3 linked regions of the Homo sapiens genome follow. The protein of the gene in region 3 interacts with the protein of the main gene of each other region in a pairwise test. Each region holds a gene or a part of one and is shown on either strand. Other genes may lie near its edges.

What was found.
Region 1: the proteins of ZSCAN26 (region 3) and GOLGA6L9 interact in binary tests that used the Homo sapiens proteins (3 or more experiments, as listed by UniProt).
Region 2: the proteins of ZSCAN26 (region 3) and MTUS2 interact in binary tests that used the Homo sapiens proteins (3 or more experiments, as listed by UniProt).

What each region holds. Positions count from the first base shown.
Region 1 is NC_000015.10:82,424,939-82,432,822, forward strand, and holds the start of GOLGA6L9 (golgin subfamily A member 6-like protein 9), read left to right. Parts: upstream 1-4,877; 5' UTR 4,878-5,141; coding exon 5,142-5,225; intron 5,226-5,844; exon of another isoform or gene 5,845-5,956; intron 5,957-6,891; coding exon 6,892-7,011; exon of another isoform or gene 7,012-7,633; coding exon 7,634-7,693; exon of another isoform or gene 7,694-7,878; coding exon 7,879-7,884.
Region 2 is NC_000013.11:29,502,316-29,506,454, reverse strand, and holds the end of MTUS2 (microtubule-associated tumor suppressor candidate 2), read right to left. Parts: intron 3,463-4,139; coding exon 3,249-3,462; 3' UTR 508-3,248; downstream 1-507. UniProt on the Homo sapiens protein: Binds microtubules. Together with MAPRE1 may target the microtubule depolymerase KIF2C to the plus-end of microtubules. May regulate the dynamics of microtubules at their growing distal tip.
Region 3 is NC_000006.12:28,262,311-28,270,158, forward strand, and holds the start of ZSCAN26 (zinc finger and SCAN domain-containing protein 26), read left to right. Parts: upstream 1-4,832; 5' UTR 4,833-4,903; exon of another isoform or gene 4,904-5,143; intron 5,144-7,848. UniProt on the Homo sapiens protein: May be involved in transcriptional regulation.

The sequences.
Region 1 (7,884 bases), on a different chromosome or scaffold from region 3:
ATGGAGTTCTGGGGAAATATTTCTCAAATGAAGCCGGCCGGGCCGGATGGCTCCCACTTGTAATACCGGCACTTTGGGAGGTGGAAGTGGGAGGATCCAGGAGGATCTAGGAGTTCAAGACCAGCCTGGTCAACAGAGCAAAGCCCTGCCTGTTTCTATATTTGAAAAAAAATAAGTAAATTTTTTTAATGAAATGATATTTGAGCACTCTGGAGCACCATACAAATATAGGACAGACTGAAGGAATGTACCTGGCTTGAGTTAACATTTATTGAAATTTTATATTGCAAAAATAGTACATATTCACTGTTTTGAAACTAGAAAGAATTGATAGGCAAGGAGGGCTGTCTACAAAGCACTCCATAGATCCACCATACTGAGACAATGCTTAATGCTTTGATGGATTTATTGTATACTATCTATGCATATGCATGTATTATATACATACATGTGCATGGTTAAATAGAAATATTTCTCCTTGGTGTTAATCCATTTATTGTTATGCAGTAAATCCCCAAAGAGCACATTTGCTTTGCCCAAGGGAGTCTTTTGCTACATACTGCTGTACATAATGAAAACTAAAAAATTGGCTAACTTTTCAGCCTTGTGACCTTGTGGTGATTCAAATAGAGGCTTCATCAAAGGCAGATTCAGAAATGAACTTGGTATGTGGGTGGTTATGCTTGGCATTATTGTTTGTAATAGTATGATAGGGATGACTTCAGTGTCCACCAACAGGGAACTGGTTAAGTAAACTGTGGTACATCCAAACGATGAATACTGTGCGGTTGTAAAGAAGAATGACAAAGACCTCTGTACTCATGTAGAAGAACTCACATATATTGTGTGTGTTTTAAGAGGAACAAGGAATGGTATAGTATGTATGGTATGCTACTTTTTGTGTTGAGAGAGAAGAGTAGAATAAGAATATACGTGTGTATTTGCAAACATAAATTCTGAAATGATATATAAGAAACCAATTAAAAGTGTTTGGCTGTAGAAGGAGAATAAGACTGTGAATGGGATTTGGCCACATACTTTTATAGGTAGTTATATTTAAAAATTTTCTGAACCATGTGTTTGTACACATGACCTTTTTAAAAATAAGTGAATGAAGGAATGAAGTAGGATTATGAGAAAGAGATAAGAACAAATGATCTAAGGGGCTGCCCATCTTTTTAGTACCCAGTGAATATTAATATATAACAATAGCAGCAAAAATTGGAAGAGTAGCCCCAGGAGGGTAGGGAGTCAGCCTTTCCTTTGTCTTTTCCTCAATTTCATATATTAAACAAAATAATCTGAGAACGATAAAACAATTTGAAATAAAAAATGTCTCCAGATCTCTTAAAAGGAAGCTGGGGCAGCTTTCTGTAGCGCACTTCCCAAAAATGGGCTGATTTACCTCAAGAGGCAGGGATTCTAGCCTACATGGGATACATACAGGAGAAAACAAAATCAGAAAAAGAAAAGATATTTAAATATAAATAAATGAAAATAACAATTCTCCCTCATTATAAAGGAAATCATTCTTTTTGTAATAATTTGGATGACAAATATTAAGAAAAATCTTTAATTTGCCACTCAAAACATTGTGGTTTGTTGCTTTTTATACGTTTTTATGCACATAAACCTTTTAAAAAGTAGAATCGTAGTATGTAGTCTTTTGTCACTTACTATATTTTGGGCATATTTCTGTGGCAGTAAATATATCCTGGCATCATCATTTTTAATAGCTGGATGTATATTAAGTTAATCACTGCCACCCCAGAGGTGAATTTTCTTATACACACATTTTAATGGGCTCGAGCAAACATTTTTGGACTGAATTCATAGAAGTAGAATTTCTGGAGGAAAATAATTTTTAGGGTTTTTAATAGAAATTTTCAAATCATTCTCCAGGAAAAGTGACTCAGGTTATACTCCCACCAACAAGGACAGAGCTCCAGGTTCCCCTTTCCATTTGTCATCTTTCCTGCCTTTATACAGAAAATCTCATTGTTTTCATGACATTTCTTTGATTTCTTGTGCTTTTGAATCTTTGTATATGCCACTGGCCATTTTTATTCTTGTGAGAAGTGCCAGTTTCTCCATTGCCCATTTTCGGTTGAAAATCATTTGTTTTTTTTTCTCAGTAATTTTAAAGATTTCTTTATAGTCTAAGGATACAAGCCTTTTATCTGTCATTGAGGTGACAAAACTTTCTCCCAGTAAGTAATTTGTCATTTCATTTTTTCTTCTTTTCTTTTTCCTTTCCTTTCCCTTTCTTTCTTTTCCTTGTTTCTTTCTTTCTTCTTCTTCCTTCCTTGCTTTCCTTTTCTTTCTTGCTTTCCATTCTTACTTTCTTTTCTTTTCCCTCCCTCCCTCCCTCTCTTTCTTTCCTCTTTCTTTTTCTTTCTCTCTTTTTCTTTCTTCTTTCCCTCTCTCTCTTTCTTCCTTTCCTTTCTTTCTCTTTATTCCCTCCCTCCCTCCTTCTTCCCTTTTTTTTCTTTCTTTCTTTCACTAGCCAAGCTCCAAAGTCACATTTCACTTAATTTTTATCCTGCCAAATTTGAAAGCCTTTTAACTTCGTGATTTTAGTGTAAACAGGAGCAGGAGAAAATGTAATTATCTAAGTCTCGCTGTGTCACCCAGACTGGAGTGCAGTGCCATAATCATAGCTACTGCAGCCTTGAACTCCTCGCCTCAAGCAATTTTCCCACCTCAGCCTGCCAAGTAGCTAGGACTACAGCTGTGTGCCACCACACCCAGCTAATGTTCAAAAATTTTTGTGGAGATGTGAATTCTTTATGCTGCCCAGGCTAGTCTTGAACTCCTGACTTCAAGTAATCCTCCCACCTCGGCTTGCCAAAGTGCTGGGATTACAGGTGTCAGCTCCTGCTCCTGACTGAGAGTTTAGTTTTGTTTGCTAGTGGTGTTCTTGGTATCTTTTCATATTTGAGGTTTTGGGCTAGTGCTGAAGTATTACACTCACCATTCGAGGTCTACAGGACTTTTGGTTTAATATTGAACAGATGGAACTGTTTAGTTCTGCATCTTTGCAGGTATACAGAATGTGCCTACCAGGAATCTGCTTTATATCCATTGAAAGCAAGAAATAATACAGTAAAACTTTGCCTGGCTAGAGGCTTTGAAAGAATGGCGTATTCTGGTTTAATTCTATTACTTTGGAAGTATAAAGGTGAAAAAAATTCAAAACTTAAATTTCCTGTTGAATGCAATTTGAAAATATAGCCAATGATTCCACTTTTCTTCTCTAGTAAGGTTGGACATTCTGATCTACTTGGTGTTTTATTATAGAACTGCTAGTGTGCGTGAGTCTTACATTGTGAAGATACTTTTTTAAAACTTGAGATGTAAGAGGATGTAAACGGTTTTGTAGGAGATCAGGCTGGATGAGAACGGACACTTGTAAACATACTTTTTAGACTAAATCTCTGATTGCCGCTTGTTTTTCTTATGGAACTCATACAAATAAAACACATTGGATGGAGGGTGCGAGTAGGAAGGAGATTCTTGTCTTTTAATTGCATGTCATTGTTTCATAACAAGGCAGAACATATGGTAACCCTGGCTTTGGACCTACAGAAGGAAACACATTTTTCTACCTGCTGTATGCCAGAGGTTCTTGAACACTTGGAGGGATTACTGCAGCACAGATTGCTGAACCCTACTCCAGAGTTTCTGATTCACCAGGTCCAGGGTGGGGCCTGAGAATTTGCACTTATAAAAAGGTCTCAGGTGCTGCTGGTGCTGCTAGTCCATAGACTACATTTTGAGAACCACTCTTGTCTATTAAGTGTAAATTGTAGAACTCTAGAAAAAAGCTTAGTTCAGTCTGGGATAAGAAGCACACAGGTTATGGAGAAAAATCATGAAAGATTCAACCCTTGATCCCAGCCTAGTGTGGATTTCAGGTAACAAGCAGTACACAGTGACATAACACAATTCTTGGTTTTCATGATTGCAAGTCATAGCCAGGTATCAAGTGAGAAATTCAGTTTCATTTGCAAGGCCTAGAGTGGCCTGGTGATTCTAGAAAAATGGGCCTTGTATTTGTTTTAAACCAGTAAAGAGCTTTAAGTGCTTATTAAATTGTAAGTTTTGTGTTCCTACTTATTTTGTATCTTATTTTATTTTATTTTATTTCTTTTGAGATGGAGTCTTGCTCTGTCACCCAGGCTGGAGTGCAGTGGCATGAGCTTGGCTCACTGCAACCTCCATCTCCTGGGTTCAAGTGATTCTCCTGCCTCAGCCTCCCAAATAGCTGGGATTACAAGCACCCACCACCACACCTGGTTAGTTTTTGTATTTTTAGTAGAGACAGGGTTTCTTCATGTTGGCCAGGCTGGTCTCGAACTCCTGACCTCAGGTCATCCACCCACCTCGGCCTCCCAAAGTGATGGCATTACAGGGGTGAGCCACCGCACCTGGCCCAAAAGCTTTGTGTTTTTAAAGATATTAGACATGTTTCTTGTTTTTAAAAGAAATCTTAACAATAATGTAGGAGAATAAGACAAACATTTTTCCAAAAAAGAGAAATTGTTGTGATTATTCTCTGTTATTGGAATGTCGGATACTATAGTCAGCTTCATTAATCATCAAGAATGCTATGGATTTTCCATTTTTATAGGGTCTATATCTCAGTTAAGGTAATACTTGTAATTCTTGTGCTCCATTTGAAGATGAAAAATATAGGCCAAAATCATAGACTTTGCATAGAAGCTGCATAATGAAGACAGCTCTGGAGGAACACATAGATACACACAGACACACATATATAAAGTATATACACATATATTTTTTAAAGTTTATTTTTAACAGTTTTAAAGCTTTTAAAGCAAAAGCCAGCCCCTCCCCTCTCCCAGAGTGGGCGGCCTCTCCCCTCTCTCTGAGTGGGCGGGGACAGCGGTTGCATGGGCAGCTTTCCTTATGATGCTACAGGTCCCTCTGGACATGCTGCGCCTGGCCACGCCTCCTTTCCCTTTCATCTTTCTCACTGACCAATGGGCTTGGAACATTAAGGCCACGCCCCTATTCTGCGTTCCATTGGTGCCCTGGTTACGCCACCTGTGGCTCAGTTGCACAGCTGCCTGGTAGGTGACTGGAGGCATTGAGCAGTGCTCACTGGTATTTCGCTGATGTGGCCCCAACCCCGCCTCCCTCCCCACCCCGCGATGTCAGAAAAAACACAACAGGGGAAATTGGCCGCAGCCAAGAAAAAGGTAAAACACACCAGGTCATGGCCCCCAACCCAGCCACAGATCCCCTCCGATGACAAGACCGGTGCCAGAGTCCATACCACTCCTGAGGCATACCAGATGGGGCCCCCCAACCCCAGCCCCTCTGGGCTCCCCCAACCAAAGCCTAGTCAGTCAGCCCCACCCCTTCAGCAAGCAGCCCAGTCCCTGCCCTTGCCAATCACCCCAGGGTGACTTTGGGCAGGTGACTCCTGGGGCTCCCTGCTCCATAATCAGCCCTCACCTCCTGCCACCCCAAGCCCAACCTCCCTGGGCTCTTTGGGCTTGCGTCTCCCAGGACCTGGGTCCCCCAGCCCCAGGCCCTGCCCTCACCAGTCATCCCTGGGTGGCTTTGGGCTGGTGACTCCCGGGGCTCCCTACTGCAGACTCTGCCCTCCCCTCCTGCTGCCCCAAGCTCGACCTCCCTAGGCTTCTTGGGCTGGCGTCTCTGAGGACCTGGGTCGAAACCGTGTGTTTCCCTCCCCCATCGTGGAGCAGCGACTCGGGCATCGCGCTGATGTGGTCCCCTCCCCTGGGAGGAGTGGAATGCAATGATGTCACAGTGCCCCTAGGAACTGTCATTACTGCTGCAAGACCGGCCTTTGATCTTACAACCCAGTCCCCTAAGTTTTCTCACCCCATTTCTGGTTCCTCTGGTTGCAGCACAAATTTCCAGCTGGAAGGGGAGTGGAGACTATGGGACCTAGGAGCAAGAGGTTTCAGGCTGCCTTACTCCCTTAACATAGACATTGACAGTGGGAAAAGCCTACACTTCCCCTGTGAGCTCAAAATGTTCACAGTATCTCTGGGTGGCAATGGGAGAATGGGTTTGGTTTGGTTTTTTCCCAGGCTTCTACTTTCCAGAGAGACTTTAACATTTTTTTCTGAGTTCTCCACGGTTCTGGGACCAGACTGCCCTTCAGTCAGTGGCCTCTGAAGTGAGATTTGCTCATCTTCTGTGGAATAGATCTTGGGAAACTGAACTTGACAGCTTGAATCTTCCTCATATCGTCTCAACCTGGGGTACTTTGAGTGCCACAGGATAAATGCGGGACATCTTTCTGAAGCATCATTTTCCCTTGATTCTCTTGAGAAAATGCATTAATGTACTTAGGGATGACAGACACATAGGTTTCCAAGCGTATACCAGACTTCGCTCTGAAATGAGGCTTGGGTTGTCCTCTTTCTGATAAATTCCCAGATTTAATAGAAAAGCTGCCTTCTGCCATGAGGACACATTGATATGAAAGTGTGAGAGGTACTGGTACGCTTCTTCACGCTAGCAGACCTGTGAGGATGTATGACTCTAAACCACACGGCCTACAGTTCCTGCCTGCTTAATGTGTGCTTTTCTACCTCTGCCCCTGGTTTTGGTCCCTGGAAGCTGCTGATTCATGGCAAAACCCCAGAGCTTGGAGTCAGAGGACTGAGTTTAAGTTCCAGTATTGCCTTTTTTGATCTTTCTTTTTTTTTTTTTCTATCCATGATATCAATCCCTCTCAGTCACTAAGTGATTGTGACAACACCTTGTACAGTTGTTGGTGGCATTACATCAGATGGTATATAAGGGTATTTTGTCAAAACTGTAAAGGAGGATGTGGCTGTAGGGGCTGATCATTCTCATGAGTGTTACTGCTCTTCTTTCCCACAGTTAAAAGCATATTGGCAGAGGAAGAGCCCTGGCATTCCAGCAGGAGCTAACAGGAAAAAGAAAATCAATGGCAGTAGCCCTGACACATTCACTTCTGGTGGTTACCACTCACCTGGGGATGTGAGTCTCGGCGGGCCAGGCTCCTGGGGACAGGGAGCCCAAGGGGCAGTAGAGGGTAATTGTTAAGATTGTAGATGGACTGTTGGGTACTGGTTAAGAATTCTGGATTTGAATCCTGCCTCTCCGTCTGCTAAGAATTGATTAGGGATTGATTAGCATATGATTTAGGGCAAGTTGCTTGAGGTCTTTGGGCCTCTCTTTTCACATCTGTATAATAGAGGTGGTATTTTTTGACTTCCATTTGTGAAGTTTAAATGAGATTCGTTATTGTTGCTTTTATGTGAATCCTTAGTACATGGCCTGCTGCAAACACCCAGGACACCGAGGAAATGGTCGTTGCTGTTTGATTTTCCTCATCCCCAGTCTCAAGGGGAAGCCAGGCCAATGAGAAGAGCCACTTGCCATCAGGCTGTCCCTTTAGGAGTCACTGAAAGGGCCCCAGGGTGGGATGGTGGGGAGATAAGAACCACGAGAGAAGTTGGCACAAAGGAGTTATGGGAAAAAGGTTCCAAGATAGGCAGAAAAGAAGCTTTTGCCAGTTGATGGGGGAAGAAAGGAAGTCAGAGGGCTTAGACAGTGAGGGGGGACAGAACATCTCCATGTGCACTCTCATCTCTTGGAGTCAGCAACAGGTATCTACGGGGAGGGCCGTGCATCCTCTACTACCCTGCAGGATCTGGAGGTAAGAGGCCCTGGGCCGAGGTGCAGTGACCCTGCAGGCCAGCCCTCCAACCTCCTCCCACAGCAGGGGCTTGTTGCCCCTCTGCCAGCTGAGGCAGCCCACACACCCCCACCAGCCCTAATGATTATTCTCTCTACCCCTCCCCACAATCTTTCTCCAACTCCTTCTCTCTGCATGCACCTCAGAGCCAG
Region 2 (4,139 bases), on a different chromosome or scaffold from region 3:
GGACTTGCTGATCTCGCTGAAATAGCTGCCACTCCCACAGACCCTGCAAAACCACCACAGGGAACCTGCGAACCCAGCTGTCTCCCTTGTGATGGTGCCAGACACCTGTGGGACACTTCGAGGTCCAGCTGGCTAAACCGGCTGCAGCCCAAACTGAAGGCCATCGGGATGGGGGGAGCAAGCACTTTCAGGTTGAAATGAGTGAATGACCTTTTATGTCCTCCTTCCAGCCAACTCCAGCGCACCCGGCCTTGCAGAGCAGAGGCACTGAGCTCCCAAGTCCAGGGGAGGGGCTGCTCAAGCCCCCAGGCTGGAGGGGTGGGCGCAGGGACCTGGGACCTGCGGAGTCAGGGGAGAGGGGGTCTCTACAAGACTTCTCTCACGGACCATCACCCAACCCCGGCACACACAGAAAAGGGGTCCAGCCTGCAAACGCCACCCCCCTTGCCTCCCTGCCTGGGATCCCCAGCCTGAGAGGGACAGGTCTCCAGTTACATCAAGTAGATATCGCAGAAAGTCCCTCAAGTTTATTTTAATAGGCTTTAAACACAAATATGCAACACAAACTGTAGGGGCAGGAAAAGGGATGTTGTGACCCCATTCATTCAACTAATCACGGCCAGGGCTGCCCCCACCCCCATCCATTCTGACATCCAGCCAGAACCTTGTCCCAGCATGTGGTGGGCAGGGGCGGCGGTCGGGGGGCAGGCCGCCCACGCATCTCCCAAATGCCACGAAGAGACAGGTGGTATCTGGTGGGTCTGTCTGAGGCAGGTGCAGAGGCTGCAGCATCCGAACGTGGAAACGTCGCTCCAGCCTGGAAGGGGACAGAGGCAGACGCCACGTGGAGAGAAATCCGAATTCTGATGGTGTGGGGGGGTGGAAGAATTGAGAAGGAGGCACAGCAGCTGCCGCCCCATGTGTTTCGGGAGCGGTGATGGCTCAGATGAGGAGCCATACATGATGGGTGTCCGTAACAAAAGAAAAAAAACAAACAAACCACGAAGCCAGGGCCACGTGGAAATTAGCTCAAGTACCCAAGGTCAGGGCAGGTTAGGGCAAAGCTCTCACCGAAGTCCACCTAATGAGGAATTACTTAGTGCTAACGATGCTACAACTCTGACCACAGCAGCCTAATACACTGTACCACGTTCTAGCATCACACGGAAGTCAGTATTGCTGTGTAACTGCATTTAGCAGGTGCGGCTATGTAAGCGGTTCCTAATTCGGACAGCTAAGCTGTAACTGAATTTGTGTTTGCAGGTTGTGCCTGCTACTAGAATAAATACTTGTGTATTTAGTCAATGTGGCAAGATCTACTCTAATGGAATGCCCAACTCAATATCACAGTATCATGCAGAGCCACTAAAGCAAAGAGAAATGGTGGTGTTTCCATGTGGATTTACTGTGTACGTCCCCAGAAGGAGCAAGACCCTTGGAGGTTGGCTGGAGATGCACCTGAGGCCCGGAAGCCCAGCGTGGACTCATCCTAGGGCCAGGGACCATGTCTGCCTTCACGTTGGCAACACGTGTGCCGAGCAGGCGTGCCCTGGACAAGCCGACCCCGTCCGCGGGCTGTTTTCTTCCCCGTTCCATGGCTCCGGCCCCTGCAGGACCCCCTCATGGTTCTTCTCGCCTTGGGCACGCTCAAAGACAGGCCTGTGCTCAGGACAATTTTGGGGGGGTCTCAGGGAGAAAGTGCAGGGTCTTTGTCACATACAGGAAACAAGGGCATCATCATCATCACCATATCTGTTAAAACTACTTCTTCCTTTTGTGTATCATGCTCCTAATCTTCCACACCACTACATGAGTACTGTTCATATCCTAATTCTACCATTTTAGAGACAGATGCCAGTCCAGGAGCTGGTGCCCCCTGGCTGGCTGTTTCACTGGGCTCCTCTGTTTGGGAGAACCTTCTGGGTCTAAGATGGGAGCACGGTCAGCAGCAGCGTTGCCTGATCATCCAGCAGGAAGTGCAAGTGGGTTTCTGGGTGGTCGTGTGATGATCTAGCACAGCTCAGAACTGGTCCCCCGGGACAGAAATGGTGTTTTTTTTTTCTGGAAGCCCCTGCTAGAACCCCTGAGCCATCTCAATGTGCAGTGAAGGGGTTGAGTTGTAGAACCAAACTGAAGGGGGGCTGCTAGGAAATGGGGGCCTGAGGGTCCTATTTCAAAGAGTTGATCATTTACAGCATCGCATCAGAGTGAACCACATGGAAAGCTGGAGTGATGTTCCCCCTCTGTGCCTGGTCAAAATACAGACCTTGGCAGCAATTTCCTTCATGAGGATGGAGCGCGAATGGGCACAGTCATCTGCAAGGTCATCCTCACTCTTACTCAAAGGTCATGCTCTGCCATGTTTTCCGGAGGGTGCAACAATAGCTTAATGACCGAGTCTGAGATGCCATTTAGGAAAAAAGCAAAACTTGTGTTTACAAGACTATCAGAGATGAGTCACTGTCATGGGTAACATCTGCAAAACTGCTAAACCCCCTTAGGGTTTCCCACTGCTCTCCCTTATCCGCTCATGACAGGAGTATCAATAATTAAAACTTGCGAATGGAATAATAGTGATCTCACATCATGTTGACTGAGAAGCTGATTGTTCCAAAGGCAGTTACCGTTCACAAATAGCTGGTGTTCGTGTTAAAGAGAGTACCACTTGGTGGTGAGTTGAAAGGCGCTTCTTCTCTGTATCTTTTTTTTTTTCCTTTTTCTATTTTGGGTAGAAATATTCCTGGGAAGCTAGATAGAAATGCATTTTCATTTCCCAATAATTCTTAGGCACAAGTTAGAAAACTGCTGACCTTCACTAAAATATGTCAGCACTTCATGTTATAAAAAATGAAATTCAGAACCGCAGCATGTGTATATACGTATATCTAAATATACACACATATCGGTGCAGTACACAATGATTATTCAATGTATATTGAAAACTGAGCTTTTTGTAACTAACCTGAAATTCTGCAGTGAAAGTTCATTGCTCAAGAACAATTGCAAGTGTCTTTCTTTTGGCTCTAACTATGGTAAAACGTTTGCACATCAGACTTTACCATTTACACATTCCTAAGTGCCGACACCAGGGCAGTCTTACACGGGGATCAGAGGAGGACGCGCCTAGGATGCATTCGCAGCTACTGAGCATGCGCACAGGGCCAGCTCCGGCGGCACCGGGTCGGTGCTCCCTCAGGGTGGAGACCGGAGGACGAGAAGCCGGAGCTCCCGCAGGCCGTGTAGTGGCGTCATCTGGGTGTTGTGCTGACTCTGGCCGGAGAGGAGGGCCCCGAGGAGGAGCCGCGGTAAACGGGAGATGTGGGCGAGAGTTTAATCGGACTGGTCGGGTCCCCAGTTTGGAGCTTCCAAAGCAGCTCTTCATTGGTTCGGCTCAATCTCTTCTTCTCCTGGGTTTCCTTCTCAACATATTCCTGGAGGTTAGCATTTTCCTCCGACAGCTGTCTGCATGGGCACAATGACAAATAAGTAGCAATCATGCTAGTGGACACTGAACCTGAGGTCAGGACAATGGTGCAGGGCAAAGGGAGGAGGCCATGATGACCGCAGGGAGAACAGGGACCAGGGTGACCCAGTGACCAAGAACTTTGGTTGAATCATGATTTCCATTTGGCCCAATGACACATCTGTTCCCAGAGCCTCTCTGGCCAATACCCATCATCCCACAGGCCCTCTGCCCGGTCAGGGGAGGCACTGGCTGTCCACTGGACAGAGCAAAGGCCAGCGACTGAAAGGAGGGAAGCGGAGAGCTGGAGTGGGTATGCTGCCCGGAAGCTCCGAAAGGAGAGACAGCCGCGCAGCTGGCAATTGACAATGACAACAGCACAATAGCAGTGAAGAGCCGCGGGCCTTCCTGAGACTGCCAGGAAGCTGGGGGTGCCTTCTCCTGGCCTCCCTGCCCCAGGCTTGTGCCTCCACGATGGCAGGTGTCCTCCCCTGCTGGAAATGCTGCTCTAGGGGTCTGTGTCTGCCTGCTAGACTGGGAGCTCCGGAGGACAGAGGCCAAGGCTCTGCATGCTGAACTCCCAGCATCCAGCTGGTGCTAGGCACGTAACAGATGCTCAGTTAATGTTTGCCGATAAAGGCTGGTGGGTGAAAAAATGAATCCGAATTGCTTGCTT
Region 3 (7,848 bases):
AGTTGGCAGAACTCATGAGGAGGAGACCAGATCAGGAGGGACCACAAGGACAGGAGAATTAGCAACGAGAGACTGGCTGGCACCAGTCTTGGGAAAACTTCAGAGTGAGCTCCATTCATGGTCTATTAAAAGGCCTTTGTTGTCATTCAGTGATATGTGCCTGGCCCCTGAGACTTTAATTCAACACTAGCCAAACTATCTCATTTGGATAACCCCCTTTTCAAAGTTCAAAAGACTGATTAGCCCCCACAGAACTGAAGGTGAGGAAATGGGGTTCTAGAATCTGGCAGGGCAGTGTGATGTGGAAGGGCACATTTACCCTTCCACAGGATGTGACATGGCTGATACTGGACCACACCACCTTGAGATTTTCGCCAAAGGGTGTTGTGGCATATTGGTGATAGACATGCTGTTACATGTGCGTATTTCCATTTTTAGAACAAACTATACCACATGATACACATGGATTGACACCTTGCTCTTTTCAATTAATACATCCTGGAGATGTTTTATATCAATACATATGAATCTTTCTTTCTTTTAGATAATCTTGTAGTATTCCATTATATGAAAGCACCGTATTTTGTTGGATGGTTAAGATGTTTTTCTGTATTTTACTGTCACAGAGTACTATATTGAAAGCCTCTGTGGATATGTGACAGTATATTTGTAGCATATTCAACTAAAAATAGATGAATATTAGGTCAAAAAGAATCCTTTTGGTCATCTAGAAATGCTAACCTCAAAATAGAATTATTGAAACAAAGGGAAAATATCAGGTGCTTTCTATGTATTAGGCACTATGGCTGGTACTGAGGATAAACCAAGAAACAAGTTAGACTTGCTCCTTGCCATCATAGAATTTTACATTTTACTGGGGGAGACAGACTTATAAAAGCCAACAGGCAAAAATTACAAATTACAGTATGATGTGAAAAAAGTAACGGGCTAGAGACAGAATTGGGGGGAACTTTTTTGATATAGTGGTCAAGGAAAGACTAAGAATGCCAGATTTAAGCTGTGTGTGCTTTTAAATTTTAGTAGATATTGCAACACCACCTTCTATGTTTACACACTCACCAACATCATCACCAATATTGTATTTTCAAACCTTTTGATCTTTCCCAATCTAAGGTGAAAATGGCATTTTATTTGTATTTATTATTAAAAGTAAGATAGAGCATCCTTTCATAGATGTATTTACGAGTCTTTTGAAATTCTTTTGTGTGTATGTGAACTGCTCCTCTGATAACCTTTGTCCACTCTTCTATAGCGTTGTTGGTCTTTTTTCTTAACTGGTCATAAAAACTCTTTAATAAATTAGATCTTTATCAAATATCTTGCAAATATATCTCCGTGTTATTTACCTTTGACTTGTTTTTCTGAGAGACACTTGACTGTAATGCCCGTTAAAGCCTAAAAAGGTTTTCTAACAGTGGCCAAACAAATATCTTTATCTTTCTCGCTTGGAAGAAGATGCAGCTGAGAAACTGACTTCTAAGTAAGCCAAGGTAAGATCGGTGAGCTTCTTTCCCAGAAAGATAAAATACACACCATGCAACAAATAGTATGTCTAATGCCTACAGTGGAATACTCATGATAGCTTTTTTGCTGTAGTTATGCTTAACTTGCCATTTAATGTTGCTATTAGAGAGGGACTTGGCCAATAAATCTGCCTTAAAAGAGATTTCAAGAGTTGGAATATGACTGCAGATCACTGTTGTCTCAGGGGAGCTAATAAAAAGGGTTACAACTTTTCCTTTGAAGTAGTTTTGCCCAGAGTATGTAGCTATGGATTGTGAAATAGAAGAAAAACAGTATAACGAAAATTTTGTATTACGTTTACATTTCAAGAAACCATCAGAATCACTTTATTATTTCACTCTGCTCAAGCAGGAAGTTGAACAGATCAAATAACTTGTCTTAGCCACTAGAGTTACACTGAGTTTTATTCAGTGCTGAGAAACAGCCTAAGAAAGCAAACTAGTGAGGCTGTGCTGATTTACAATTGATACATTTTATGAAATAGCATTAATGTTCTCACAGACCATCATTATATGACTTTGTGGAATTATCAAAAGTAGTGTTTCACAAAATATAAAAATCTCCCACTGGCATAAGGGGTCTAATGTGTATTTCATGTTTGTTTGTTTTAAAGTTCTGTAGCACAAGGGAAGGTGTTTCTTAACCTTAGCCACCAGCAATTTAGGGAGTAAGAAATCATACATTTAGCAAAATTGCTCTTTTTATTCTTAGCCTAACGAATTCAGCTAGACTTTAATCTGAATTTATGGGGGATATGTCTAAGATTTCACCATCAAATATAAGGGAGGTTTTTGGTATATTTGAGATGTATTTATTTTTGCCTTATAAAGGAATCATCCATCTATTTATTTTTTATTAGGAGTTTCTGCTTTTAGTCAGAAATATATGTTGAGTTTTATGAAATGACATTGTAGCATTTGTGGAGATTATATGATTTTTCTTTATCAGCCTAATATGGGTGACTTAAAGTTATAGGTTCCTAATATTAAGCTATAAATTTGTTAGATTCATTTGTAGGCTTTGATTGTTTAGAACGATCACTGGACAAATAACTTATTTTAAAACTCAGAGTAATGAATGAGACCTTGCTGTATACGTATAAGAAGCAGAGAGAAGAGCAGGAAGCATCATTACCAGAAGATAAGAACTGTAAATCTTATGCTGGAGCATGGTGACATGACTCATAATGCGATAGCATCTCTACTGATAATATGGAAAAGAAAGTTCTTATCTTGAATATCGTATGAATGGACCTGGCAGAAACATGATCACTATAGTTTACAAAAATAAGGATAATCCTGGAAAATGAAAACCTCAAGTTTGAAAATTGATTTGTATTTTAGTATTTTGTCTCTCCTGGTGATAACAGTGTTTTGAGTTATTCTCACCTTATCTACCCCTACCCCTCCCAAAAGGTACAAACAGACTGTTTAAATGAAAAATGCACACCTTGAAAATTTAAAAAAACTCTTCTTTGTCTAGCTACTTTAAAGGTTTTGATTTTCATGGGATATCCAGTGCAATGGCAATAATCTCAGCCTTGACAATAAAAGTGACAGATTTAAGAAACTAGTCATAGTAGGGAATTTTAGAGGGGGAGTAAATAGGATATAGTATTTACTTTCTATTTAAATTAAATTTTCTTTATGTTTATCCCTTATATAATTTTTGAAAAGGTCCTTTTCTAGATATTAAAAAATAAGATATATGAGTTTTCCTCTCAAGAAAGAATATTGACTTCTAATTAGTAACACATATTGACTAGATTTGTTGGCCTTATGAAAAGTTTTAAAGTAAACATATTTAATTTTTACTTTAAAAATATGCTTTCAAAGATACATTCAGACACTTAAGAAGAAAAGATAACTGCTTGTGATAATGAAACTGGTTGTTTTTTTTCTGTTATGATAATTTCAATGCTTGAAACACTGAATAAATTACACGTCAGTACAATGTTTTGTATATTTAATGATATTTCAAAGCTTCTGTCAACTGATCAGTTAAACACAAAAGTTTGTTCAGATTTTTTAAAGGTTTTTTTTTCTTTCTTCCAACTTTTGTTTTAGGTTCAGTGGGTACATGTGCAGGTATGTTACATGAATAAAGTGCATACTGCTGGGGTTTGGTGTACAAATGATTTTGTCACCAAAGTGGTAGCATAGTACCTTATAGGTAACTTTTCAATCTTCACCTTCCTCTCACCCTCCACCCTCAAGAAGTCCTTGTGTCTGTTGTTCCCATTTGTGTTCATGTTTACTGAATGTTTAGCACCCACTTATAAGTAAGAACATGCAGTATTTGGTTTTCTGTTCCTGTGTTAATTGGCTTAGGATAAATGGCCTCCAGCTGCATCCATGTTGCTGCAAAGGACATGATCTCATTCTTTTAGCTGCATGATATTCCATGGTGTTATGTACCACATTTTCTTTTTCCAGTCCACCACTGATGGGCATCTAGGTTGATTCCATGTTTCTGCTATTGTGAAAAGTGCTGTGATGAACATACACATGCATGGTCTTTATGGTAGAACAGTATATTCCTCTGGGTATATACCCAATAATGGAATTGCTGGGTCAAATGAGAGCTCTGTTTTAAGTTCCTTAAGAAATTTCCAAATTGCTTTCCACAGTGGCAGAACTAATTTACATTCCCACTAGCAATGTATAAGCATTCAAAGAGTTTATCTTATTCAAAAACTATAAAAACCCAGTTTGTGATACTGTGGGCAAGAGAGACTATTTCTGTTCTCTGTTGTAGAATTTATTTTGATAAAGTGATATCTGTTGCTTTTATTCCCCCTGAAACTTACATTGATTGCAAAGTGTTGTTGATTTATTTTCTCTCACAGTAATAGCCCTAATTTCTTCTTACCTTAAACCTTTCAATCCAAACGTATGTCCATTGTTTAGTTTAATTTTCGAAATACTTTGACAATTATTTTTGCCATTGTGTTTGATGAATTTCTAAATTGCGAAAAATGGCGAAGTATGTGTGTTTTATTTATGTGAGCAAAGTGAAAATGTTGGCTGTTTGTGATAACACTCAACGGAGCTGGCCTGTTTTTACATGAATAAAATAAACATCCACTTTAAAATGAGAAAACAAAAACAAAAACAGAAACAAAAAAAAAACCCCAACAATCTTAGCTCACAACGAAATGACCCTCCCAGCCGTCCTCAGCAGGCAGCACCCATGTTAGTCTCCTTCTGCGATGCCTAAGCGGCAGCACCATCGAGCCAAGGTCCTCCAGCGTTCCTAGAGCGGAGAAGAAAGCGCTCCGAAGAGCTAGAGCTGACACTCGGCGATGAGCTAAGACGCTGTTTCAGAGCGTTTGGGTCCTCTGAGGCCCCTTGACCAGGTGAGCGGACCCTGGAGCTGGGCCCCGGGCTGGGGCGGAACTGCGGCCTAGGGGCCTAGGGAGCAGCTGCTTCCCGGCGGGTGCAGAGAATCTTCCCTCGACCGAGGGGGCGGGGTCCGTAGCGGAGGTGTCGGCCCTGGGGCCTATGAGAGTGATGAAGCTGTGGATCTGGTAAACAGAGTACAACCTTCTGCTGCATATTTTTCATCCATTCAGCGCAATTTTAAGTAGATATTAAAGGTAGGCGCCACCGAGAAGGTAATATTTGAGCAGAAATCTGAAGGAGGTGGGTGGAAAGACCTAAGTGGCTTTTGCGGTCAGGAACTTTCTAGGTAGAGGGAATAGCAAGTGCAAAGGTCTTAAAGCAGGAGCTTGCTTGGCATATTTGAGGAATAACGGGGAGACCAGAGCGGTTGGAGCAGTGAACAAAGGCGACCTTTGTAGGGAATGATGTCAGAGAGATTGGGGTATGGAGAGGAAGAGTGTAGAGGAAATGAGAACTGTATCGTGTAAGGAATTTTGTCTTTTTTTGGTGTGTGTTTTTGGAGGATTTTGAGCAGAAGAAAACATGATCTGACTTATGTTTTAAAGCTTCTTTACTTGGAGACTCATGATGATAATAGATTGTAAGTGGGCAAGAATGGAATCAAGAAAACTTAAAAGTTAAGAGTAATTTTTTAAAATTCCAAGTAATTCAGGTGGGAGATAAGGATATCTTGAGCCAGTGATCAGATTATGATCTGCTTTGAAAATAGAGACAATAATATTTGCTACTGGGTCAGATGTAGGGTGTGACAGTAAGAAGGCAAATATAAATCCAAGGTTTTGGGCCTGTGGGTGCAAGAGATACTGGAGAAAAGATCTGAGGTTTAGCTTTGGTACCTCGTGTAAGTTCTTCAACTCTCCCCGTCTCAATTTCCTTCTCTGCACGAAGAAATTAGGAATAGTGTCTTCTTTATAGGGTTGTGTGAGGGTTAAATAATTAATATATGTGAAACATGTAGTATAGTTGTCCTGGCTCATTGTTTTATTATGCTGAGACATGAAGTGTGAGTGGGCATTAACAAGAAGAAAATTGGAGGGTTGGAGGGTGGTCCAAGCAGAAGGAATAAGCTGTGGAAGGGCCAAGGAGCAAGAAGGAGTATTGCAAATTTGATGAAATAAAGTACTTTATTAGATCAAAAAACAATGTAAACCATATTAAATGTTTTGAACTTGATCCTAAGGGTAATAATCAGCCATTATATGTAACAGGCATAGCAGGGACATAATAATATTTCATATCCTCCTTAGAATGATCACTGTTTGCGTGTGGAAAATAGATTGGTGTCTCAGACCAGTCTGTTTGTCACAGTGGTCTAGGTAGGAGAAGACAATGGCAAAGGGGATGAGAAGTGGATTGATTTGAGAGATATTTAAGCAATAGAATCAATAGAACTTGATTGATCAGATACATGAGATATGAAAGGAGGAAGGAATGGTCAGTTTTCTGGCTCAAATAGCTGGGTAGATGGAGCTCCTCCCAAAACAGTTTATCAAATTATTTATTATATATTGTGTTTGATATATTTAATCACATTATAGAAATGAACTCACCACTAATTCAGCCTCATACCCAGCCAGGCACGGTGGCTCATGCCTGTAATCCCAGCACTTCGGGAGGCTGAGGACGGTGGATCACTTGAGGTCAGGAATTCGAGACCAGCTTGGCCAACATGGTGAAACACTGTCTCTGCTAAAATTACAAAAATTAGCTGGGTGTCATGGCAGGCATTTGTAATCCCAGCTATTCGGGAGGCTGAGGGAGGAGAATCACTTGAACCCGGGAGGCGGAGGTTGCAGTAAGCCAAGATTGCGCTGCTGTACTCCAGCCTGGGCAACAGAGGCAGACTCCATTTCAAAGAAAAAAAAAAAACACATCATACCCTATATATACATATCAACATCATACCACATGTTTATTTATATACCAATACTGATATAGATACCAGTATATATATATGTATGTGGCATAGATATATACTGATATGGGTATAGATATCTCTATAGATATAATAATATGAATACAGGTATATATAAAAAATACGAATACAGGTATATATACCTAAACAATAATACGAATTATGTATATATATACATATGCCTGTATTTGTGTCATTATTTGTATAACTAGGGTATCTATATCGGTAAAGATAGGTAGAGATCTAGAAAGAGATTTACTATAGGGAATTAGCATAGGTCATTATGGAGGCTGGCAAGTCTCAGTATCTTCAGAGTGAGTTTTCAGGCTGGAGACCCAGGAGAGCAAATGGTTTAGTTCCAGCTCAAGCCCAAAGGCCTGAGAACCAGGAGAGCTGATGGTGTAGTTCCTGTCTGAAGGCCATAGGCTTGAGATTCAGTAAGAGCTGTTTTAGTTCCAAGTCTGATGGCAAGAAAAAAGCTGATGATTCAGTTTGAAGCATTTTAGACAGGAAGAATTCTCTTACTCAGGGATGAGTCAGCCTTTTTGTTCTAGTCAGACTTTTAACTGCTTGGATGAGGCCCACCAACATTATGGAGGGCAGTCTGTTTTAGTCAACAGTCTACCAATTTAAATGTTAATCTCATTCCAAAAACACCCTCACAGAAACATCCAGAATAATGTTTGACCAAATATCTGAGCACCCTGTGGCCAGTTAAGTTGACACATAAAATTAACCATTACAATACCAATCTTTTATTTTCTGGCTAATAATCATCACTTTTTTTGAGACAGAGTCTCACTCTGTCGCCCAGGCTGGAGTGCAGTGGTGTGATCTCAGCTCACTGCAACCTCCACCTCCTGGGTTCAAGTGATTCTCCTGCCTTAGCCTCCCGAGTAGCTAGGACTACAGGCGTGTGCCACCACACCCGGCTCATTTTTTGTATTTTTAGTAGACACGGGGTTTCACTGATAATCATCACTT